Homo sapiens: one gene and its partners. The protein of the gene in region 1 purifies or fractionates together with the protein of each later gene. This does not show direct contact. Each region holds a gene or a part of one and is shown on either strand. Other genes may lie near its edges.

Region 1 (4,168 bases):
TAGATGGAATTAAGACATAAGTTAAGGCCAGTCTATTGAACAACTCAATAACAAGCAGGAAAATGAAGGAAAGAAATCAGTCAATAATTCATTGTTTGTTGGCTCTACATCCTGTAGATTATAGCCCCACATGGAATTATTTTTTATAATTGTGGTTTTGAAAGAGAAACTTGGATTTTTGTTTCCATTGAATGTTTTAATTAATCTAATATTGTGTCTTTAGAAGCATAGACTTCTTCAGTTTGGTAACCTAAAAGTTAACAGTAAATTGACTTGCATTTATGTTAAAGTAAACTTCTCCTTAAATTTTATACCCTCCAAAGGCCTACATTCTTTAAAAAAATAATTTGCTTTCATTGTAAGCAAGTTAAAATAATAGTCTTTCAGTTTAATTAGCAGTTTATTGAATGATTAAATATATGTTTAAAGTGGCCAAAAAATAATATCATGTTATTATACTAGGAATAAATCCTCCATTAACATTAATTGAGTTTTAACAAATGAGTTGATTAGGAGGAAAGGAAAGAGGAACCAGCTCACCAGATGCAACTTGGTGCCAGACACCTGGTTCCTGCATGGACCTAATGTTCTTTTGTCATAGCACCTTGGAAAAAATAATCAGTGGCTGCATTTCTTAAAAATAATACACTTCCCAGTGAATGAATCATGTACTAAAATGATTGCTTTTGATTTATTTACTCATTTTGTTTTTCAAAGAGTTTATATTCATTTCTCAGAAAATTATGGAGGATAATCAAATTGTCATGCATTTATATGTAAAAAGAGCAGCACAGATGATATGTGGTAATGACCTAAATTTGTCTTGACTAGTTTAATTTCCTACTTTCTCTGCCATAAGTAAGAATGTATGCTGAGACTAACTCAAAAATATTAAAATATAGCAGGGCTCCAGGTATGAAGCAGGATATGGTCATGATAGGATTCAGCCAAATCTAGAGGACTCATGGGACCAGGAGAGTTGCAAAGTGAAGATCATAATGTGTCTTAGATGAAGTTCTTGGCAAGGAGATGGGGTGAGAATTCAGAATAGAGCACTATTTCTGTGCTGGAATTTGTCATCTGATGGGGCTGCCAGAGATTCATATAGGAGACCTCACAAGGAGCCGGGGTGGGAGTGGCAGGGTGGGAGGGAAAGGGTTAGTCACACAGAATTTGAAAAACAAAACCAACAAAGCCAAAAACAGCTGACAAGGTCTTTTAGTTATTATTATTATTTACAAATTCTGTACGAATTTGAGGGCTTAGAAATTTGGACCAAAAGGGGTGGGGAGTTTTTCCCTTCCCTCCATGTAGCTCTGTGAGACCTCAGCACAAGGAGAGATAAGCCAAGAATGCTGCAGCTAGAAGATTGCACCTGGTGGGAGACAACCCACAGATGCCACAGCAGGGGCCAGTCCCTTCTCCAGCTTTGCAGGTAGGATAGGCCTTGACAGTGTCCAAAAGGACTTTATTAGCTCACATGAATTCCCTTCAGAGGTCCCAGGATCACTGGCAAAGGCTTCTGGCAGAGGCTGGAGGGACCACCATATTATAGTTAATATGATTCTATTATAACCCAGACTGGTGTAACCTCGATTAGTACTTGTTAGAGGAGAGCATCAGCAGGGTTCTTGCCCATTAAGAGGAGGGACTGTGCATAATGGAGTGCTGGGAATTGCCCCACCTGTGGAGTCAACACACCCAAGGAGACTGGCACTGCACACTTACTGTGTGCCAGGCACTGCTCCAAATAAGTGTTTGAAGAGTGTTTCTTCATTTCATTCTCACAACAAGCCTGCTACTATACACATCTTTCATATGAGAAAACAGAAGCACAGAGACATTAAGTAGCATGCCCAGGTGACACAGTTTGTAAGTGGTAAATCTGGGACCTGAAGCAGAGAATCTGGCTCCAAAGCCTGTCCTCTTACTACCAAGTGACGTTTGTGCCTGGCACAGAGAAGGTGCTCATTAAATGTTTGCTGATTCAAATCATTTTACCAAGAAATTAAACATGCTTGAGCTTATTGTTCTGGACTTAATGCCCTGACTACTCTTAAAAAGCAAACAAAAATGCTTACAAGTACACCACAATGAAACAAAACCTGGAATTATCAGAACATGGTAAATGCTTTATTAGATTTTCTGATTGACCAAGGGAAATTACTCTAAGCTTTCAATGTCTTCTTTTCCTACAAGGGAACTAAATTTCCAGGAAGTTCTGTGACAAAGCCACAGAGCTGAGAAGTAAATTAGTCTGTGCTGGACCTAGGATTTCCCTTGTTCTTCCACCTCTGTCCCCAGCAATTGCTTTGCTGCCTATTCTCAGGGGAAGGCATTGCACTAGCCATGCATGCTCCCTGGAGAATGACAACTTGAACTGCAAAATCTCAAAGGTTGTGCTTCTTTTGTTCTTCCTCTCATCTAGTTGATAGGCAGAGAACAATTCTGATTGAATATTCTATTTAATTATGTTTAATCATACTAAGAATCAACCAATGTTAATTATTAAAAAGGGAGAAAATGGCCAAAACATCATGTACAACCATCCTGACTTTAGGTATGAAGGGTCAACATTCATTCAGCTCTGAGCCAGGCAGTTAAACAGCAAACAGTTTTAATAAAGGACAATTAAATAAGTCAGGAAATCCACCAGTCTGTTCTCCAGGTTCACTCACCTTGGTGTGGAGGACGATGGGCAGAGGTAGTAAAACCAACACAGTGAAAACCACGAAGAGAAATCGGCGATAAACCAGAATGTAACTGAAGAATTTCATTGTCCTGAGCAGGTGGCTTCAATAGTGTCCTCCAAATAAAGCAGATGTTAAATAACCAACTTGGATTAATATTTTTCCAGCCTGTCACCTTCACTCACTGCCCTAGACCGACCAACACAAGTTAAAATTAAATCTCATTTTTTATTGTTTTACTATCACAATTAACATGAAGAGATAGGCCCAAGACTTTTCATGAGAAATCAAAGACCATTTGCTCCTCTGGGTTTTCAAGGAAAAACTGTTCTTTCCCTGCTTTCTTTGATCACATTCACTGAAATACAGACTGGACAAGCCTAGGAGAAGGCAAAACCATGAAGCTGGTTGTTTGTTCACAATGAGGCACTTCCAACCCTTTTGATGTCCTCTGACTTCCAGACTCCCTAACTGGAGTAGTTACCACATTGTCATGGTGCCATGAGTGAGTCTCCACAGGCAGCCTCCATGGCCCTTTCTAAGGAAGTATGTTTTCAGTGTGTAAATTGAAATAGCAACTAATAGTTGGAATTTCAGTGTATGACAGTGAAAGGGAAACTTTTTTGTTTAGAGATGGATTTTTAACGGACTTCTTGGACAATGTATTGCAAGGGTCTTCTACAAAATTTATAGCAAATGTCCCTGTTGGTTAGAAGCAAAGTTTTGTGTATTTCTTGGACCCTATTGTCTCTTTTGATAGAAAACCAAAATAACCATGAAGTGTTATATAAACCCTCTATTTTAAGACCTTTGAAGGCTTGATTTGATACTGTTGTGCTGATACAGACTACATAATTATCAGGGAATCTGCATAAAGATGAGTGATTAGGGACATTCAAGTGGTGTGTGATGTGTGTGTGTGTATGGTTTGTGCACATGAGCACATGGGAAGTTGGAGACTGTTCCAACAGTGATATGGAGGATGTATTTTGAAAATCTTCAGGGATAAGGACCCTGGTTTTTTTCACGTTGTGTTGTAAATTGATGATCCAGTAAACCTCAAGTTAGCAACTACTACTTGTCTTTAGATATAAATGAAACACATTCCCAGCCCTACTAGAATTTATAGTCAATATCTCTTGACATAGATAACCTTACTCTTATGTAATCTATAGTTAGCATTTAGGTCTTATTTCTAACTTCATACTAATATAACTCTGCATTCTCTTTCCATCAAGAGAAACAATTCTCTCACCAGTACTCACCATATTAATGTAAATGAGAAAGCATTTTTTTCCTGTAAAAAATTTAAATTCCTAAACATCTATTATGGACAGTTATTCAGGAAAATCAGAATAGTAAACAGAAAAAAAGTTTCCAAACCAGAAAGTCTTATTATATCTTAAATTTCTTAGATGAAAGGATAATTACAAATGATATTGTAATAAAATGGTAAGTGATAATAAATAGGTAACAAT
Region 2 (2,618 bases), on another chromosome or scaffold:
TTGGAAACCATAAAATATTTTGCAAGCTTTTTTTGTTTGTTTGTTTGTTTCTTCTGTTTTGCCTTTGAATCTAGGGAATGTCTCTTATCTCTTTCAGGAGATAGTATTGTGCTTCTGAACAGTCATGGCGTTCGGGGAAAGAAAATGAGCCACACTCAATGTGAATGCATACACGAAAGGTTTTGGAGCACATACATTAACATAAATCTTTTTAACCATACGTATAGGTCTCCAGACAACACTCAGACATCTATATACATTTTTTAATATATACACACATACATTTACATACACACGTTCACACATTCACTCACAGATGAAGGAAAAAATTGCCACTGTTTGGATTGCAAGGCAGTGTAATGAAACGTTCTAGTCACTTTAGAGGGCTGCTAATGAGCTTTCTAAAAAAAAGTATTCATGGAAAATTAGAAATTAAGTTTTGTGATTGGTCTCTCTCTGCTGCTGTCAGTCATCTGGTTGGTAATACGTTTGCGATTCCGTTTCAATTTAGAAAGGTCTTTGTCAAACACTTCTCCTGAGCGTAAAGCTGAAACAAGGTCATCAAACTCTCCGCTTTCTTCACTATTCTCTTTAGCTTTTCTCATTTTACGTTCCCTTTCACGTTGTTCTTTGAGCTGCAAATAGAAAGAAATAACCTCTTTGAGACATGTCAAAATGTTGCATTTTGTTTGCAGTAGAGGTCAATTCCTTGAAATATGGTAATGCTCCAGACACCAAGCTATGCTCATCCTATAACCCCCTTTGGATATCACAAGAAAGGGGGAATTGGAACATGGGGTCTCCATTGCAGGAGCAATGGACAACAAAAAACAACCACTCCCTTGTGGTTAGACCCTCACCACCTAGATTCTAGGTAAACTGCATGATATTCTAGTTAAAATAAGAGCAATTGAGGCAATTTGTGTTTCTGCTAATGAAAATTAAAAAAAAGGTATCACTATTACATAGACCCCAAATAACTAAAGCAAATGGTCATCAGGCCATTTTCCTTATATCAAAGGCTTAGCTTGTGTCTACTGTGGAAGCCTGAAACCTGATACACAATAGTTACTGTTATTAAAAGCCAACTAATACATACACATTGTAGACAATTTGGATAATTCAGATAAAAGGAAGGTGGGGGAAACATCTTTAATTCTACTACTGTGAACTTTTTAAAGGTTTATCACACCACTATTATTTTCTATATGTATTAACACACCTTAAAAAACAAAACAGAAAAAGATTTCATGTAGAAATCTTTTTCTGTATCATTATTCTTTGAATACATGTCTTTCAAGGACTGCATAAATATTCCATTATATGGCTGTTATATCATTTAGAACTCATCCCCTTTTGGTAAACATTTAGGTTGTCTTTAGCTTGGTGCTATTATAAAGAATGCTGCCCTTTTTTGTGTAAATTTATGATTATTTCTTTAAAATAATTGCTAAGAAATGGAATTCCAGAGCAAAGGATGTGGATAGATTTTTTTTTTAAGGCTTTGAATATACACTGTTAAATAGCCCAAGAGAAACAACACCAATGTAAAGTCCCACAGCATTCTAGAGAGTACATTGAAGCCTTCCTTCCTGCCAGGTCAGAGTGCTCTCTAAATACCTTTGACTGGGCTGCAGTCATAGAACTTCTAGGAGGTGGAATTGGTCAATTAATCATCCTCTCACCTGAGCTTCCATGCGAGCTCGACGTTCTTCTTCCTCCTTTTTCTTTCTCATATTTTCGTTTTCTTGTTTGGCTTCTGACACAGCTTGAAGAAATTGATCAAAAATGCCAAAGAACTCATCTGGTTGTATTTTGCCAGCCTCTTCCCCAAAGTGCTTCACTGCTTTAGTAAACTAGGAAAAAGATGGTTTTAAGAAGTCAATGTTTCATGAGAATTCCACAATCAAATATAAATAACTTGAGAAAGACCAAAGCCCAGATTGAGTCAAACGTAAGTTTTGTTTGCTCATTTATTTTTATTTCTTTCTTTCTTTTGGAGATGGAGTTTCGCCATCACCCAGGCTGGAGTGCAGTGGCATGATCCCAGCTCACTGCAACCTCTGTCTCTCGGGTTCAAGCGATTCTCCAGCCTCAACCTCCCAAGTAGCTGGGATTACAGGCACAAACCACCATGCCTGGCTAATTTTTGTATTTTTAGTAGAGTCAGGATTTTGCCATGTTGGCCGGGCTGGTCTCAACTTCTGACCTCAGGTGATCTGCCCACCTTGGCCTCCCAAAGTGCTGGGATTACAGGTTTCAGCCACCACACCCGGCAGTTTTTTTTTGTTGTTTTGTTTTAAGAGATGGGGTCTTACATGTTGCCCAGGCTGGAATGCATATGTTATTAGTTTTTTTTTTTTTTAATAGATGGGGTCTTACATGTTACCCAGGTTGGAGTTTAGTGGCTATTCAGAGGTATGATCACAGCAAAATACAGCCAAAAACTCCTGGGCAATCCTTCCTCTTAAGCCTCACGAGTAGCTGGGACTATAGGCATGTGCCGCTGCACCCGGCTGAGTCAAATATAACTGATGGATTTTAGTGAGCCTATATTTATCTTCAGCTGCTGAACATGTCTATTAATCATTTCTAAAGTAAAAATTGTAATACTCCTC
Region 3 (3,500 bases), about 25 Mb from region 1:
TCCGCCTCGACCCCCCAATGTGTTGGGATTGCAGGCGTGAGCCACCGCGCCCGGCCAAAATCTTAATCCTAGTGGAAAACTGACAGCCCCAAAAGGTTAATAAATGTACTCGAGGCTGACACTGTATAAGACGACGACAGATTCCATGATCTGTATGACTTTGGTCATTAAATCTGAACTCCTTAAACCTGCAATTGAAAAAGTAGTATAATCACGTCTCATTTCTCTTCAGCCAAGACTAATCTTAGATGTAAAAACTGAGAAAACTCAGGAAGTCCCCACAGCAAGAATTCAGAGTCATGACAATTTTGGCAAAATCATCTTCTAATGCCCTGTTAATTAAAAAAAAAAAAAAAATTCGCGCATCCCGAGACAGTGGTGCTCCCCACATAGCCCAGGTGGGCACCGCATCCACCCCATGCCTACACAGGAGGGGACTCTCTCCATCCTGAACTTCTTGCTTTGGAAAGTTATTGCTTAGTATAAAAAATGAGAGGAGTAGGGTGGAACTGGCAATGAAGGTCATTTGCTGCGCACTCTCTGGCAACGTCCGCCTGCATTTTGCACTAGGACTCAACTTCCTTCCGTGTACCCCAGGCGGCCCCTGCACGGGTCTGGAGAGCACCCCAGGTTGCGCTGGAGTCTGGAAACATATCAGCACCGGAAAATATGTTGGGTGAAGGGTGAGTATGAGGGGACTGCAGGCCCAAGGACCCCCGAAGGAACGGCTGCCTCCCCAGCACAGCACAGCCGCGCTGCACCAGCCACCGAGGACTTCCTTATGTCAGAGCAGAACTCAGGGAGGGAGGTGTGAGGTCGCCCATGACCACAGGGGCTCGTGACGATGTGACGAAGCTACACTGGGAGCACTCGGGCCCTTTCAAAGCCAGAAGAGAACCTGGGGCTTAATGCAGAACGGAGGGTCCGTGAGATGAGTCCCGGGCCATGCAGGACCACCCAAGGCCCCGACCCGAACTATGTGTCGGCTGCTGATGCTCTGCCGTCGGCCGTCGTCCCTTGTCCATCCCCCTTCACAGCTGCAGGATGTGGTGTTATCTCATCCCACATGGATAACCACAGACTGGCCAGGCCCAGCTGGACGTGACGTGGAGTGGCTCGGAGGAGAAGATTCGGCTGTGGAGGTTTTTTTAAAGCTCAAGTCCCCACCACCTGAAGTGTGCACACATCATCAAGTCGAACGGTCCCCCACGGCTGGTATGCTCTGCGGAGATGAGTCTGCCTGAGTTCCCCGGCTTCTTGAAGGAAGGACTGACAGGAACACGGAAGCTTCCCAGCAGCCTGGCCTCCGAAAACCAGGCAGAAGAGCTGCGCGGAGGGAAGCGGTGCGGTGCCCCGTGCAGGGTGCAGCTCTCTGGACCTGCCACGCCAGCACGTCCCCAGGGATGGGCCGGGTCCATCTGAGGTCTGCGGCCACAACCTGTTGGTTTTTACCAAAAGGGCTTTAAAAAATGGGATGTGGGGTGGGAGAATGACAAGGAGAGGCTGCAAGACCTCTCAGCTCCTCAGAGAGAAGCCTCATTTGCTGCGGCAAAGCCGCTTCATCAAGAAGAGACAAAAATGCATTCAAGTCCATCAACAAAACAGTGGTATTTTGGACTCAATGAAAATATTTCCTATATGAACATAAAACACTAACATTCAGAATCATTTATCATTTATGAAAGAGTACCATATGTACAATCCCAACAATCCTAGACACAGTAGAACACTCAAAATATTTAAGCTTCACAAGTACCATGCAGCGCAAACTATAAAACAGAAAAAAAATCAAACTAGTGGCTAGCATCGGCTTGACCTGCCTCATTCCCCTCGAATAACTGAAGATCCTGTACAACAATGGAGACTCTCGGAACATTTATCCACAGTGCAATTACAGAAAGCAGTTCGTGATTTCTCTAGAAATAATAAATATGGCTCACTGGTGACCATTCCCCTCACGTGTCCTCTGTGGTGCCCACACGTGCGCCGGGATGTGCAGGCGTGGACGCAGAGACGCCCCTGTGGAAAGCACACATGCGGTGCACACAGCTCCACACGCGCGCGCACATGGAGGCTGTGCCCCTGCCTCCCCCGACGGCCAGCGCATGAGCACTGCCTGGGAGGCCGCGGCCGCGGGTGCACGGGGCACTGAGGGACGCCGGCTCCTGGACACGGCCTCGCTCTGCACCTGGGCTCCCGAGGGCCCCGCCTTGAACGCAGCTAAGAGCCGTCTCCCTCTTCACCTCTGGATTCTTCCTCCCAATCTCATGTCAGCAAATGGCGAGTGGATGTCGCTGCTCGGGCTGAGGGCGCAGGGGCGCCGCTCCAGGGGAGCAGCCTCGGACCCGAGCGTGCGCGTTGGCAGCCACCTAGTCCTTTTCTCCGTCTTCGCTGCTTCCTGTTGAGGAGAGAGGAAGCGAGACGACAAAGCTGGGTTTTTAAAATGATCAGACAGGCATGGCGTGGATGGCATGTGCGCTGCACCACAGGAACGGAAGCGGGTGTTTTGAGCCCAGCACCGCCTGAGCCGCCCTTCCTGTCCTTTCCTTCGGAAGCAGCCCCTGCCTGACTCTCCCACATCTGCTAGGCTCAAATGCCCGCTGGGCGCTAAGGGTCAGGGTGCAGAAGAAGTCAGCTGGGATCCACACATCTGCCCCGACAGACTGGCAGATAGCAGGTGTTATCTAATCGGCACAAATGAAGCCTAGCGCCGAGGGAAATAAAGCCTCTTTGTATTCCATATTTATTATTTGATCTGTAAACTTCCAATCAAAAAATGAGCCTATTAACCTTTATCTTTCAATCTAGTGACGGGGAAAGAAGGCTCCCTATGTTCAGATACCTCGACTTCAAATGGCCCCTGCCCATTCACCCCACCCCGCCCTCGGGAGCCACACCAGGACCAAGACTCAGCAGCAAAACCAACATTCCAGGGGCAGCACCAGAGGGCATGTGGGCTGGTCCCAAGTCCAGGGGTCAAGTGCTCTTACGAGCCTGCTGAAGAGCAGGTTCTCTCTGGGAAAGGAGGAGACAGAGTGCGGAGGAGGGACTATGCAGCCACAGGAGAAAAAGAGGAGATGGCGCGCAGCCTGGGCGTTCCTGGGACCCAGAGCCCCTCTGCCTCAGCCTGGCCCCACAGGGTGGCCGGTAACGAGCCTGAGAGTGACCACAACAGGCAGGGGGCATGGCCCCGAGAGCACACTCAGGATGCTGGCAGTTTTATTTATTTATTTTAGAGGCAGGGTCTTGCTCTGTCACCCATGCTGGAGGGCAGTGGCACAATCATAGGTCACTGTAGCCTTGAACTCCTGGGCTCAAGCATTCCTCCCACCTCAGCCTCCTGAGTAGCTGAAGTGCAGGTGCACACCACCACATCCAGCTAATTTTTTAGTTTTTATTTTTTTTAGAGATGGGGTCTCACTATGTTGCCCAGGCTGGTCTCACACTCCCAGGCTCAACTGATCCTCCCACCTCAGCCTCCTGAGTAGCTGGGATTACAG
Region 4 (3,500 bases), on another chromosome or scaffold:
AAATCCCCGCTTTATCACTTATAGCTGTGGAGATCTGAGCAACTTACTTAGTCTTTGTGAGCCTTTGTTTTTTAATCTGTAAAATGGGGAAGATAACTCTTGCTTTATGGGGTCATTGTGAGGAGCAAGTGAGATAACACTTAAATTGCCAAGCTTAGCCTTTAGGACTAGCTGCTATTCAATGAGTGATAGCCCCCTTCTTCCTCTCTTTTCTGGGATCAGAGCTCAAATTTTTGATCTGAGATTTCCATGTTATTCCAGAGTCATGTTAAAATCAAGCTCTGGGACCACAGCTTCTTTCATTTATCCTTATTCCCCTCTAAGGCCACCAAAATATTTCTGGGTCCCTGGGTCTTAGTTCTTTGGAGTATCAGGGTCTTTAAGGGGCCATTCCTCTTGCAGCCCTTGCACCAGAAGGGTGTGGTGCTGAAGGGGTGGAGGCAAGGGGCTCTCCACTCTAAGGTCCTGGCCCCACTCACTGTCACCTCTCTCCCAGTGCCTTTGCTATCCTTTTGTAACTAGCCCAGGCTTGTCCCTCTGCTCTGGAGCAGAGAAGAGTGTCATCTTCCTCTTTCCTCTGGCTCAGAAGCAGGCAGGAATCAGCAGTTTCCTCCTGACAAGGCCCCCTCTGGGTTATGGGAACTAGGCTGGACTCTGCAAGCATTTAACCCTTACGGAGGGTTACATTTCCTCTCCACCTCTCCACATTGGTTACGGCCAGTGGCCATAAAATTTTGGCGTTAAAAAAAAAAAAACCAAAGACTATCTAGTCTAGCTTCCTCATTTTACAACAGTAAGATAACTAAGAAAATAGCTGGCTCTTTACTACTGTGATTAATATTAATAATCATAGCGGCCCATTTATTGAATGCTTATTATGTTCCAGGTATTGTGCTAAGCACTTTACATAAATTTTCCATTTGATCCTCATAATAACCATGAAAAGAAGACAATATTATCTCTATTTTAAAGACGAAAAATTTACAGCTCAGACCAGGTACATAACTTGCCCAAAGTCACACAAGGAGTAAGTGGTAGGACTGATTTTTAATCCCCATCTGGTTTACTTCAAAGCCTTAACCACGACTCTTCTACCACACCAAGCAAATGATGACAGGAATAGAAGCGTAGCCTTGGAATGATGTTTTCTTGCTTCAAGTACTGGTGCTTGGTCCCAACGGCAGGCACCTTCAATTTAGAGTACTCAGAAGGTAGCCGTATGGGCCCCTTGGTCTCATATATTTTTTTCTAGGTTGCAGATCCAGAGCCCTCAGCACTGTGTACAAGAAACCTACTTTTGCACTTCTCACACTCCCTGTTAACTCCCTGTGTAATAATAAACCTAACATTTCCAGGCATGGTGCTAATCTCTCCATGTATTATCTCATCTGATCATCCCATGAGCTAGGCATTATTATTTCCATCTCACAGATAAGAATGTAGAGATGCTAAGGTGCTTCTGAAGAAGGCAGGAAGAAACACAGATGGAATTTGAAGCCTGGCTTTTGTCTCAGAACCTCAAACTCTGAGCCACTACATTATGTTGCCAGCTGTCTCTAGCTCTCTCTCTCTTCCTCTCTCTCTCTCTCTTCCCCCTACTAGATTATAAGATCTGTGAGACTAGTGATCATGTCTTTTTTTTTTCTGAGACAGGGTCTCACTCTGTCACCCAGGCTGGAGTATAGTAGCACAATCTTGGCTCACTGCAACCTCCACCTCCCATGCTCAGGCCTCCAGAGTAGCTGGTACTACAGGTGTGCATCACCACACCCAGCTAATTTTTGGAATTTTTGTAGAGACGGAGTTTTGTCATGTTGCCCAGGCTGGTCTCGAACTCCTGAGCTCAAGCAATCTGCCTACCTTAGCCTGCCAAAGTGCTGGGAGTACAGGTGTGAGCCACCGCACCCAGCCGATCATGTCTTTTTATGTTTGCAACCCCAGTGCCTAGTACAGTGCCAGGCATTCAGAAGATCTTCAATACTACTTGTAAATGAATAGAGGGATGGGTAGATGGATGATGGTGGATGAATAAAGAGAGGGATGAATGGATAGATGGAGGGCTAGGTAGACAAATGGATGATGGATAGATAAAGATATGGAGACATAGATTAAGGGAGAAAAAAGAGGGATGAGTGGATAAAGAGATGGATGAAGGGATGGAGGAAGGGATGGAGGAAAGAATGAAGGGAAGGATCAGGGACAGATGAATGGAGGTTTAGGTAAATAGGTGAATAGATGGATGGATGGATGATGGATGGATGGATGGATGGAGAGATGCATGGAGGGAGAGAGCTAAGGAGGATGGAGGGATAGATGGATAGGAGAATAAAAGGAGGGAAGGAAAGGGGATGGATGAAAGGAGAGATGGGTGGATAAATGAATGGATGATTGGATGGTTGGATGAATGATGGAAGAAGAGTGGATCATGAATACTTTGATGGCAGCACCATGAGCCGCTGACAGGGCAGTGCTTGCCACTGATTTTCTTGTCTCTGCTTTCCTCAGGTCTGGATTCTGAGCTTTTCATCCTCTCCTCTTTTGCCTTTGCCCACACTCCTGATTCTTCTCCAGTTTTCCATCAGTTGGTCAAGCCAGACTCCCTTCCCTCTCCTCTGACTTAGATTTCTGATCTCCACTTGACCCCCTCACTGGGAACCACAGTGGCCTACAGCTCTGTGTGTACATGACCTGGTCCCCATTACTTCTGATGGACCCCATCACCTGCTGCTCTTTCTCTCACATACTCTGATCTGGCTGCAGTTGCCTCCTTACTGTTCCTCAGACACTCCAGGCATGCCCTGAATTCTTTGCACATTCTCCTCACCCTTTCTCTCTCTGGAATGCTTTCTCTGGACACTTGTGTGGCTCCCTTTCTTCCCATCCTCAGTTTTTGCTTAGACACCACTTTCTCAATGAGTCAGTCCTCTCAGCTACTGCCTCTCCCCCTTTCCTGTTTATTTTTCTCTATAGCCATTATCACCATTTGGCAAACTAACATGTATTATGTGTTCATTTGTCTCACCCAACTAGCGTGTAATCTCCATGAGGGCAGTGAGCTTTGTAGGGTTGTATGGTTCACAGCTGAAGCCTGCAGCATTTACAATAGCACCTGATGTGATGTAGGCACTCAATACATATATTTGAAATGACAACAAATCAACACACATATCTCAAGTATCTGGTGTACGTAAGACCCTGCGTTATTGGTTACCACCTGATAACCTGAGTCTGAAAACCTCTTTCATTTCAGGTCCATGGTGGTGTGGGAGCAGATGTGCCCCAGGGCATGGACAGGAAGGTTGGAACCTGTGTCATGGAGCAGGAGCAGAGCGAGGTGTGTGCCTCCTTACCGCCTTGGTGCACTGGACGTCCTTCCCCAGCAGCCAGTTGAGCTCCAGGTTGCCCTCGCCCTGGTAGCAGGACTGCAGGCGCTCCTTGATCTGCAAGTTGATGGCCCGGATAGGGAAGGCACACAGGGCAGAGTCATCGGGCGGGTGGTG
Region 5 (3,500 bases), on another chromosome or scaffold:
ACAAGGGACATGGGCTCCCCAACATCCAAGGCACACGGTTGGGGGGTGCCCTCAGCTGGAGAGTGTGACTGAGCTAACCTGCCGAGCCCCTGGCCGTGGCTCGCCAAGGACTGGCTCCTAGCCTGCCTGCCGCTGGGGGCCTTTTAGGGGTGTGGGAGCCAGCCCTCTTTTCCCTCGCCAGGCTCGCTGCCAAGGTCTACGGGGCAAAGCCCTACTCTCTGAGACCCTGGTGCTATGCCAGCCACATGCTCCCCTCCCAAACCGCCATAGCAGACTTCATCAGGCACCCGCACCTCCCAGCACACGGCCCCTGCCCAGCGAGGCTTCGCATCCAGAGCCACCCAGGAGACCAGGCCAGTGGAGCCGCAGGCGGGACCCCCAACAGAGGCAGGGCCCAAGGGGCAGCCACCGGGGAGGTGCCAGAAGCCCAGGCTGACAAGTGGTTTGCTGGGATGAGGCCTGGCATCCCACGGAGGCCCTGGGGCCAGAGCCTCCTCCTGCCCTCTGGAGGTACTTTATGGAGCAGAGCCGTGCTGGCCATTCCCCTGCCCCAACCCCAGGGCTCAGGGCTCCACTGTGCTTGCCTGGTCTTGGTTCTGCCTCCCAGCACCTGCTCCCCACTTGGCTGAGCCCAGAGCCCTGCAGGCCTGGACCCTCCCCCAGGCCACACAGGCTGCCCCATACCATCCATCAGCACCCAAGGAGCCTCAAAGGCAGAAGATAGCAGCTGCCTCTGAGTTCCTGTGACCCCCCGGAGCCAGTGGTCCTACCTCCATCTCCTTGAGCACAGGGTGGTCCTCGATCCCAGGAAAGAGCACCCGCATGGCATATGTCCGGTAGTCAAGGAAGGGGATGCCGGCACCGTCCAGGTCATTGGTCAGCTCGTGGATGTCTGTCTGCAGCTCTGCAAAGGCTGTGGCCAGATGCGGCGTCAGGGGCAGCATGCCCTGGTGGCCCCGCTCCATGCCCCAACCCTCCCACTCTTGGGGCCTACATCAAATCCTGGCTCTGACACTTACTGGTTTCGTGATCTTAAGGAAACTACTGTGCCTCTTCGTCCCCCAGCTACTACAGCCCTAGCACAGGGATAGTAACTCTCCTCTGCAAGGTTCCCACAGGATCAAGCAAGACAAGGGCAGAGAAAGCATCAGCACCAGGGGCAGGCTGGGCAGGGCCTCCTGCATCTCAGACACTGGCAGTTAAGCGTAGAGCAGCTTTGGAGTTCGGGCTCCTTCCACCCGCTGTGAGGTGGTGGAGTGCGGCCAGGGGTGAGGTCCCAGGGCTGCAGGCTGTCCCCAAGCCCCCACACCATTGCATGCACATCTCGGGCCTGGTGCACCCTCAACATGGCCCACCCTGCTCAGGGCCAGCTCTGCCTCTGTCAGGAACAAAGGCAGGCAGGCCCTGACAGAACATTCCAGAGCTGTGAGGTGTCAGTCCTGTGGCAGCCCGAGGATCAGGCTATCTGATCAGAAGCCAAAGGAGTGCCAGGCAGGCTCTGGGGGACATCTGACAGGTTTAATTAAGAGCTGGAGTCTTCGTCTCCTGGGCATCGCTGCCAGGCGTCTAGTTATCTGCACCTGGCTGGCCTGGAGCAGCCACCAGCCACTGCATCCACACACGCCAGCCTCGCCAGACAGCCAGCCTCAGCAGGCGGGAGCACAAGGGAGGTCCAGGCCACCTGCCTCCCACCTGGCCCCAACACACACCTGCCTCCAGTCCCACCAGGGCTGCCCAAGAGGTAGGGTGACCCTCAGCCCACCACAGGGCCACTTAGGTTTGTCTGGGACTGAGAGGGCTCCCAGGATGCAGAACTTTGCATTTTAAGACTGGCTGAGTCCTGTGCAAACAAAACACCCCATCCCAGTTGAGTCCCAGTGGAATTCATGACAACCCCATGCTGGACCACATGGCTAAGGTCCTACACTGCAGCAGGAACACTCCTAGTATCTGCCCCCTAGAGCCCTGAACATGTGTGAGTTACTATCTGCAAACGCTCAAAGTCTCGCCCGGCATGGAACAGATTTCTGCCACTCACACCTGCCCTGATCAGGAGCATGGTGTGGCATGACTCCCCCTATAGACATCTCAAGGACAAAGGTCAGCTCAGGCCAAGATCTCTATGTGCCCAGGGACTGCCAAAGCGCAAGGGCTCCCCATTGCTGCATGGTGGAAGCACCCCTCTCTGCTGCTCCGCTGGCACCAGCCAACCCACCACGACTCCCAGCACCCAGGGAAAGTAGGCACTGTCATTGTGCCCACTCTAGAGACGACAAGACTGAGCCACAGAAGGGTAAGTAGCCACCTTCAGCCTTATAGCCCAGCTGGGATACAAATGCAAACAGTCTGGCTTTGGGTTCTGTGTCGCAAGCAGCACCCCAAGGAGGTGGTACCTGCTGCAGGGCCAGGCCCTGGTCAGGCACCCGCCCACTGCCCTGGGACCAGCTCTGGCACAGCAAGGCTATCAGGAACATTGTAAACTGAGCTGAAGCAGGGTGGGGGCGGCGGTGGGAAGTAGGTGTGGGGACAGGCCAGGGCCTGGCTCGGAGGTGGCAGTTGCCCCAGTGAGCCCTGGCCCCAACAGACCTTCCTTGCATTCGAGGGCCACGCGGGACTCCAGGTTGTCCATCTGGAGCTGCAGCCGCTTGAGTGTGCGGTCAGCATCTCGTGACTTGCGCTTGTAGGCGATGAGCACAGCCACGATGACCAGCAGCAGGAGACCCCCGCCTCCGCCAATGCCCACAATGGCAGGCAGCGTCAGCAGGCTGTCCGAGTACACCTGCAGTGTCCCTGGCGAGAACTCGAAGCCACCTGCCCGCACCTGCCAGTGGGTGGAGGCCACTCAGGAGCTTCCCATGCTTTCCACAAAGCTTGGGAGCCCCTCCCGATGGGCAAGACCCACCCCCAACACCTGCCTGTGGGAAAGGTCCCACCGACAGGGGCACAGAGTGGTCACCAGGGTGGAGACACTGGGACCCAGGGCAGGCGCCTGGCCAGCCAGGGCACCACTGGCATGGCAAGGGCTCAGGGTGGGTAGGCAGTCTCGGGGGGCTCAAGGAGGTGGCAGGCTGAAGGCTACGGCAGGGCCTGCACTGGAGCCGGGCGCCCTCTGAGCTAGGGGTGAGTCTCGGGCAAGGTCAGAGCTGGGGCTGTGCTAGTGGGGCAGGGTCCACAGGTGGGGCATGGCTCTCCCAGCTCTGCACCCCCGGTGGACAGACGCACCGTGACCTTGTGCTGCCCAGTGAGGTTGGGCGCCTCGCACAGCAGTTGCGTCTCCGACACGGTGAGGGTACAGGGTGTGGAGCCGATGAGCACCGTGTAGTTGAGTCGGGAGTTGCCGGGTGCAGGTGGCAAGAGGTTCCGGCCCTGTAGGAGATGGGGGTGAGCCAGAGCCCAGGACGAGGGGCCTCTTCCCTGGCTTGGCCCAGCCTACGGGCAATGGTGACCCACCTTGAGGATGAGTGGGGAGCTGGGCTTCAGCTCCAGCAGGCCAGTGGGGC
Region 6 (3,500 bases), on another chromosome or scaffold:
ACCCAGGAGGCTGAGGCGGGTGGATCACTTGAGCCCAGGAGTTCAAGGCCAGCCTAGGCAACATAGTGAGACCCTGTCTCTATGTTCTAAAAAAGACCTAGTTACAGTATAATCACATGAACACTTATGCTATCACTTCTTTCTAAACCCAAGTTTAGATAAGACATATTTAATGGATGTTAAGCAAAGAAAATAGAAAATAAGTTTAATTTTCGAAGAGAAAAATAGACTTACTTCTTCTGCTGTTTGAGAAGGTTCTTCAGGTAAATCAGGAATCTAAAGAAAAGTATTGGTAAGAGGAATGTAAACATGTTCAACAAGCAAAAGTGTCAATGAGAAGAGTTCCTCTCAATACAGAGTTTAGACACACATCTAAGCTTACTTATATCTTTTCTTCATACATCTATAAAGAGTTTATAATGAAAATAGTTCAATTAATAAACATTTTTGGGCAAGTGTGCTAAAAATTAATCATAAAAATAGGATTTGAGATAATAGCTCCCAATCTATACATACTTAAAGGATTTTGCTTCTATTATGTTCCAAAATATTACTAATATATAAAAATGCACTATGTAAAAAAGCAAGCCAGATGCAGTGGCTCATGTCCGTAATCCCAGCAACTCAGGAGGCTGAGGCAGGAAGATCACTTGAGCTCAGAAGTTCAAGGCCAACCATTGCAACAAAGCAAGACCCTGTCACTTTAAAAAAAAAAAAAAATATATATATATATATATATATATGATTGTGTATGCATATACACATACATACATATAAAAACAGGATAAATGTTAACATGTATCAGCTGGGCGCAGTGGCTCATGCCTGTAATCCCGACACACTGGGAGGCCGAGGCAGGTGGATCACTTGAGGTCAAGAGTTCATGATCAGCGTGGCTCACATGGTGAAACCCCGTCTCTACAAAAATACAAAAATTATCAGGCATGATGGCGGGTGCCCATAATCCCAGCTACTCGGGAGGCTGAGGCAGGAAAATCGCTTGGAACCCATGAAGCAGAGGTTGCAGTGAGCTGAGGTTGTGCCACTGCATTCTGGCCTGGGTGACAGAGCAAGCCTCCATCTTAAAAAAAAAAAAAAAGAAAAGAAAATTCAGTAAGACCCCAAAATTATTTTGCTTCAAACATATACATATTTTATTTTATTTTATTTTATTTTATTTTATTTTATTTTATTTATTTATTTTTCTGAGACGGAGTCTCACTCTGTCGCCCAGGCTGGAGTGCAGTGGCGCGATCTTGGCTCACTGCAAGCTCTGCCTCCTGGGTTCAGGCCATTCTCCTGTCTCAGCCTCCCAAGTAGCTAGGACTACAGGCGCCTGCCACCATGCCCCGCTAATTTTTTGTATTTTTTAGTAGAGATAGGGTTTCCCCGTGTTAGCCAAGATGGTCTCGACTTCCTGACCTTGTGATCCGCCTGCCTCAGCCTCCCAAAGTCCTGGGATTACAGGCGTGAGCCACCACACCCGGCCCATATACACATTTTAACATGAATATGAACTTTTTGTCACTCACACTCCTAGGTGACTGCCAGAAACCATTCACTTTGGTTGCTTTTGTCATTTACTCATGTTTCCCTATTTCCATTAATCTATTAAGAATCCAGATATTGGGCTGGGTGTGGTGTCTCACGCCTGTAATCCCAGAACTTTCGGGGGCTGAGGCAGGCAGATCACCTGAGGTCAGGAGTTTGAGACCAGCCTGGCCAACATGGTGATACCCCATCTCTACTAAAAATACAAAAATGAGCTAGGCGTGGTGGCGCACACCTGTAATCCTGCTACTCAGGAGGTTGAGGCATGAGAATCTCTTGAACCCAGGAGGCAGAGATTGCAGTGAGCCATGACTGTGCCACTGCACTCCAGCCTGGGTGACAGAGTGAGGCTCTGTCTCAAAAAAATAAAAATAAAATAATCCAGATATTTAGACCATTTTCTTTCATTAAGACATTTGTGGCCGGGCGTGGTGGCTCACGCCTGTAATCCCAGCACTTTGGGAGGCCGAGGAGGGCAGATCATGAGGTCAGGAGATCGAGACCATCCTGGCCAACACGATGGAACCCTGTCTCTACTAAAAATACAAAAAATTAGCCGGGCGTGGTGGCGGGCACCTGTAGTCCCAGCTACCCGGGAGGCTGAGGCAGGAGAATGGCGTGAAGCCGGGAGGAGGAGCTTGCAGTGAGCCGAGATCACGCCACTGCACTCCAGCCTGGGTGACAAAGCGAGACTCCGTCTCAAAAAAAAAAAAAAAAACAAAAAAAACAAACAAAAAAAACATTTGTTACCAATGACTTCATCTCCAGGAACTCTTTATTAATACCATAGAGTATATTTTATAACATTTAATCTAACCTTACCTGCATTTGCTAAATAACTCATTTGTTTTCCTTTGGTATCAAAAGCATATGTGACTGTCAAGTAAAATCTGCCATCAGCATAAGACAGTGTCATTAACAAAACACAAACATGAATTTTTAATCAGTCCGTTTAGTTCATATCGATCTTTTTCAAAGGTCAGTGATAGTTCAATAATCTGATTCCCCTGCTCAATCTCCACTATGGGACCAGGAAATCTCAGATTGAGAAGCAATATCTTAGAAACTATTTTCAGGGAATAGACAGCCTCCCAGCTTTCCCTAAGGGCCAGTAAAAACAGATTTCTTATTTCTAATCTTTTCCAGCTCCAATTGGAATTAACTTAGTTAAGGATTGAAGATTTGAATGAACAACATGTATAATAAACCTGGGCACTAATCCAAAGTGACTGATTGCTAATCTATTCCCTAGAAGGGCCAGTAAGGAAAATTATACACTCATGTTAATAACAGCTATTAGCCACTCACAAGATAGGGCTTGATAATGTTCTTAAGTTAATAGGAATGCTTCCCTTCGTAAGCATTATATTTTTCATTTTTACATAATCAAATTCCTTAAAAAGAATTGAGTATTTTCGGCTGGGCGCAGTGGCTCACGCCTGTAATCCCAGCACTTTGGGAGGCCAAGGCGGGCGGATCACGTGGTCAGGAGATTGAGACCATCCTGGCTAACATGGTGAAACCCCGTCTCTACTAAAAATACAAAAAAATTAGCTGGGTGGGGTGGTGGGCGCCTGTAGTCCCAGCTACTCGGGAGGCTGAGGCAGGAGAATGGTGAGAATGGTGTGAACCCAGGAGGCAGAGCCTGCAGTGAGCTGAGATTTCACCACTGTATTCCAGTCTGGGCGACAGAGTGAGACTCTGTCTCAAAAAAACAAAGAAAAAATATCAATTCTTTTTTTTTTTTTTTTTTGAGACGGAGTCTCACTCTGTCGCGCAGGCTGGAGTGCAGTGGCGCAATCTAGGCTCACTGCAACCTCCACCCCGCTGGGTTCAAGAGATTCTCCTGCTTCAGCCTCCTGAGTAGCTGGGATTACAGGCGCCTGCCACTGCACCTGGCTAATTTTTGTATTTTTAGTAGAGATGGGGTTTTACCATCTTAGCCAGGC
Region 7 (3,500 bases), on another chromosome or scaffold:
TGCATTCCAGGTTCTTTATTATGGTCTGACATACCAAATCTGCTTACAAGCAGTATAAACAATAAATCAGAGTTCTGAAATATTTGTGCGGAGGCTCTCAGGGCTTTCCGAAGTCCACAGTAAAACAATATACTATGAAGGAATAATGTGACAATAGTTTGAATCACCACTGCAAACTCCATGATTACAGAAACTGTCCTGTTCATCTTTGTCAGTTTTTGTTATGAACTTATGCAGGAGTCTCGATCCATATTTATTAAATTGGGTTATTATACCAATCAAGTACTTTCTTAAACTTGAGAAAAGCCTAGCTGACTTCATTCTCGAGTTAAAACATAATATTAACTTAAATGAAATTTTTAAGTTATATTTTTGTCATCTTCAACTGTGATAAATCGCATTTTCAAAGAAAATGTTCCCAACCCAAACCTAAAGAAAATGTCTATGTCTCCAATTATCTCCAGTGTATTCTTTACCTGGAATAGGTGGGGATGCATTGCCCCCATCTATTCACATTAGAGCAATCCTGGTTTTCCTAGAGGTATAACTTTGCAAATCATGATATTATAGCAGTAGCCTAAAGGACTACAAAGAAACCAAACACCTATCTTTTCCAACTCATACACATTACAATACAGAAACATTTCCTTCAGGCCACAGAATACTATTCTGCGGCTTCAAGTTAATACTAAACTCAATTTATTTTAGGTTCTATACGGACAGACTTCAATCAGGTCAACCAAGGAAATTTAGGTTCTAAAATTATACACTGTAGCAGTCTTAATAACCACACGAGGTGGGAGACATACAACAAATTGAACCACTTCTCCAGTTCAAGTTTAATTTAATTATTTTATTTCAGGTTGATATAAAAATGCCATTGGTTTATATAACCACATAGAAGCAATTATCTTCCATCCTCTAGTGGAAAGAATGGGATAGTCTATTTATTGAAAATGCGAGGTATTGTGACAGTTGTACATCTGCCTCATGAATAAAAGATTGTCCGTCCCAATCCCTCACCTGCTATTAAATTTAAATTAATCTCAAAACCATTTGAAAATACTTATATATTATTATAAAATAAATTTTCCAAGGTTATTGTTGTGCTAATTAACTCTTTGACACTGGAAATTTTGAAACCAAAGAAATAAGAAAATCTCAGCGACAGAAGAAAAGATTTTACTTGCTAGTCGCAGACAAGTTTCAACATCTAGTCGAGGTGCTGAGAGTATCATACAGAAACAGATGGGAATACATGCAAGCCTCTTCACCTTTGTTCAGCTTGTTTTGCTCCACGATGTTGTACTGAACTGGTGCCACTTCTTGTTTCTGCTGTCCCAGTGGTTTCCAGTGCTTCTCGCCAGAGTCCCCGCTGCCATTGTTCATGTTGTTGCTGAGGTTTGACTGGATGAGCTGAGTGGTGGCGTAAGGAGTAGGCTGCCCTGATGGATTGACAAAACGCCCATCCTTCAGATTTGGGCTATTGAAGGTTTTCATCTCATTGATTTTGTTACTAAGGTCCACATCACCATAAACAGTTGACTCAGGGAGCATCAGATTTGTTTGTTTGTTATCCAGTTGGTTGTTATAATTTGCTATACAATCAGCTATGTGCAATGGAGAGGAAAAGGAAAAAATCATTCTGCGTGGTTATTCCTTTTAAATTTCTTTTTACGTAGCTTTGCGAGTCATCAGAAAATCGTTATGTAAAGTACAAGTGGGCTTAAATAAGATCAATAAAAACGGCCAAATATCCACATGTGCTTTCTAAAGAAAATTAATAATTGAAAAAATAAAAGAGGGTACACAGAATTTGTAGAGACTAAATAAATTTGAATTTCTGATAGTGCTGAAGTAAACAATTCATCCAATTTAAAATAATTTTCATTTAATAACCTCATTAATAGGAATTCCACTAAAATAATATATACATGTATATCTTTATGTGTCAACTTTTTATTTTCTAGTCTTTGGTTACTGAATTATTTGAAGCTACTGGTTAGCTGCTGAAGCAACAGACAAAGCACATAAATGAAAAATCCAAAGGAAAAAACTATTCATAGATCAAAGAACTTGAGATTTTGGTATTTTATAAAATACCTACATTTAAAAGATATGGGAACAGGGGTAAAATGATAGTAAATGGTACTAAGGAGAATTCTATTAGTTCTTGTTGTAGTCCTGTTGGATAATCATTATCCGGAAAACATGCTATATAATTATTTTCTCATGGTTTCATAATGACAACCAAAGAAATATAAAATGACAATAATAATAATAACAAAAGGAATCATAGTAACCTGGGTAATTGAATCAAATAAGCCTGAAATAATACTTAAATATCTAATATCTCATTTCCACTCCAGTTTTCTCTCTATTGAAATATTTGGACATTAAATAACTGAATATACATACATAATATATACATTCATTTTATATATATATATATATATATATATATATATATATATGGCCTGCAGTTGAAAATATTAAAATGGTAGGAAGAACTGAAATCATATTTTTAAATTAAAATAGATTTTAAATAGAAAAATTAGTTAAATTACAATGGTAAAAATGTCATTATTTTATGCATGTTGTCCAAAAGTGGTACCAACATTAACAAGTCACCTGTAGCATTGGTTTTTAACTGGATATGTTTAAAAATTATAAATTAACATGTTTGTTACTAAAGATGTAAATGTGAATATAATCTTAAGAAAAATGTGTAATTTCTCTATCCTACTGAATTCAACTATTCTGCATTTCAACCATGAACCGTCAGGGAACAGAAATATTTGATTCATCTGGACTTTGTGATTCTTATTTCTAATTTCTAGTTTTGTTTAACAGTGGTTAAGAAATACTATAAAGATCATGTGGTTTTTGCATTCTCATTTTGTTTCGCCAATCTGTCTATATTTGTGTTATCCAACAGAACTTTGGAGATATTGGACATGGTCTACTCCACTTTGTCTGATACAGCAGCCACCAGTCACACGTGGCCACTGAGCACTAGAAATGTAGCTAGTGCAAAAGAGGGACTGAGTTTTAAACTATATTTTATTAAATTCAATGTAAATAGCCATCTGTTGCCAATGGCTACCATATTGGACAACACAGCTCTACCTATTAAATGGGTATCGCCATTTTTTCTCTCCTATAGGTCTCAACCCAGTTTTTCTTGTACTTATGATTACATGAGTATCTATCTGTCTAGACATTCAGAATATGGGCCTCTAGAGGACAGAGACTTGGTCACATGGATACGTCACATCCACGTCCAGTGGACACTCAGGATTCGCTTTAAGGGCAGACATGCAGACTGCTCTATGATTTGTTCTTTATAGTGCATAGCATCTTTACTTAAATCCAACTTCTCTCTCGCCTTTCCGTAATTCCACAGGTTATTTTACTTCTATCATCATAGAGATTCCATACAATAATTTTAATATTTCCTATATTGGCAATATTGGGTTTTTTTTTGGGGGGGGGAGGGG

The links.
Region 2: the proteins of SLC13A1 (region 1) and DAAM1 purify together in Homo sapiens (affinity purification with mass spectrometry; one large-scale study listed by BioGRID and IntAct). This does not show direct contact.
Region 3: the proteins of SLC13A1 (region 1) and LMTK2 purify together in Homo sapiens (affinity purification with mass spectrometry; one large-scale study listed by BioGRID and IntAct). This does not show direct contact.
Region 4: the proteins of SLC13A1 (region 1) and PLXNA2 purify together in Homo sapiens (affinity purification with mass spectrometry; one large-scale study listed by BioGRID and IntAct). This does not show direct contact.
Region 5: the proteins of SLC13A1 (region 1) and PLXNA1 purify together in Homo sapiens (affinity purification with mass spectrometry; one large-scale study listed by BioGRID and IntAct). This does not show direct contact.
Region 6: the proteins of SLC13A1 (region 1) and UBXN8 purify together in Homo sapiens (affinity purification with mass spectrometry; one large-scale study listed by BioGRID and IntAct). This does not show direct contact.
Region 7: the proteins of SLC13A1 (region 1) and ROBO1 purify together in Homo sapiens (affinity purification with mass spectrometry; one large-scale study listed by BioGRID and IntAct). This does not show direct contact.

Annotation. Positions count from the first base shown.
Region 1 is NC_000007.14:123,197,170-123,201,337, forward strand, and holds the start of SLC13A1 (solute carrier family 13 member 1), read right to left. Parts: upstream 2,801-4,168; 5' UTR 2,778-2,800; coding exon 2,679-2,777; intron 1-2,678. UniProt on the Homo sapiens protein: Sodium:sulfate symporter that mediates sulfate reabsorption in the kidney and small intestine. Can also mediate the transport of selenate and thiosulfate.
Region 2 is NC_000014.9:59,366,667-59,369,284, reverse strand, and holds part of DAAM1 (disheveled-associated activator of morphogenesis 1), read right to left. Parts: intron 1,857-2,618; coding exon 1,686-1,856; intron 636-1,685; coding exon 426-635; 3' UTR 1-425. UniProt on the Homo sapiens protein: Binds to disheveled (Dvl) and Rho, and mediates Wnt-induced Dvl-Rho complex formation. May play a role as a scaffolding protein to recruit Rho-GDP and Rho-GEF, thereby enhancing Rho-GTP formation. Can direct nucleation and elongation of new actin filaments.
Region 3 is NC_000007.14:98,204,362-98,207,861, reverse strand, and holds part of LMTK2 (serine/threonine-protein kinase LMTK2 precursor), read right to left. Parts: intron 2,399-3,500; coding exon 2,370-2,398; 3' UTR 1-2,369. UniProt on the Homo sapiens protein: Phosphorylates PPP1C, phosphorylase b and CFTR.
Region 4 is NC_000001.11:208,213,385-208,216,884, forward strand, and holds part of PLXNA2 (plexin-A2 precursor), read right to left. Parts: coding exon 3,351-3,500; intron 3,335-3,350; exon of another isoform or gene 3,251-3,334; intron 1-3,250. UniProt on the Homo sapiens protein: Coreceptor for SEMA3A and SEMA6A. Necessary for signaling by SEMA6A and class 3 semaphorins and subsequent remodeling of the cytoskeleton. Plays a role in axon guidance, invasive growth and cell migration.
Region 5 is NC_000003.12:127,017,615-127,021,114, reverse strand, and holds part of PLXNA1 (plexin-A1 precursor), read right to left. Parts: coding exon 3,451-3,500; intron 3,367-3,450; coding exon 3,223-3,366; intron 2,822-3,222; coding exon 2,587-2,821; intron 914-2,586; coding exon 771-913; intron 1-770. UniProt on the Homo sapiens protein: Coreceptor for SEMA3A, SEMA3C, SEMA3F and SEMA6D. Necessary for signaling by class 3 semaphorins and subsequent remodeling of the cytoskeleton. Plays a role in axon guidance, invasive growth and cell migration.
Region 6 is NC_000008.11:30,757,664-30,761,163, reverse strand, and holds part of UBXN8 (UBX domain-containing protein 8), read right to left. Parts: intron 277-3,500; coding exon 235-276; intron 1-234. UniProt on the Homo sapiens protein: Involved in endoplasmic reticulum-associated degradation (ERAD) for misfolded lumenal proteins, possibly by tethering VCP to the endoplasmic reticulum membrane. May play a role in reproduction.
Region 7 is NC_000003.12:78,634,499-78,637,998, forward strand, and holds part of ROBO1 (roundabout homolog 1 isoform a precursor), read right to left. Parts: intron 1,611-3,500; coding exon 1,275-1,610; intron 1-1,274. UniProt on the Homo sapiens protein: Receptor for SLIT1 and SLIT2 that mediates cellular responses to molecular guidance cues in cellular migration, including axonal navigation at the ventral midline of the neural tube and projection of axons to different regions during neuronal development.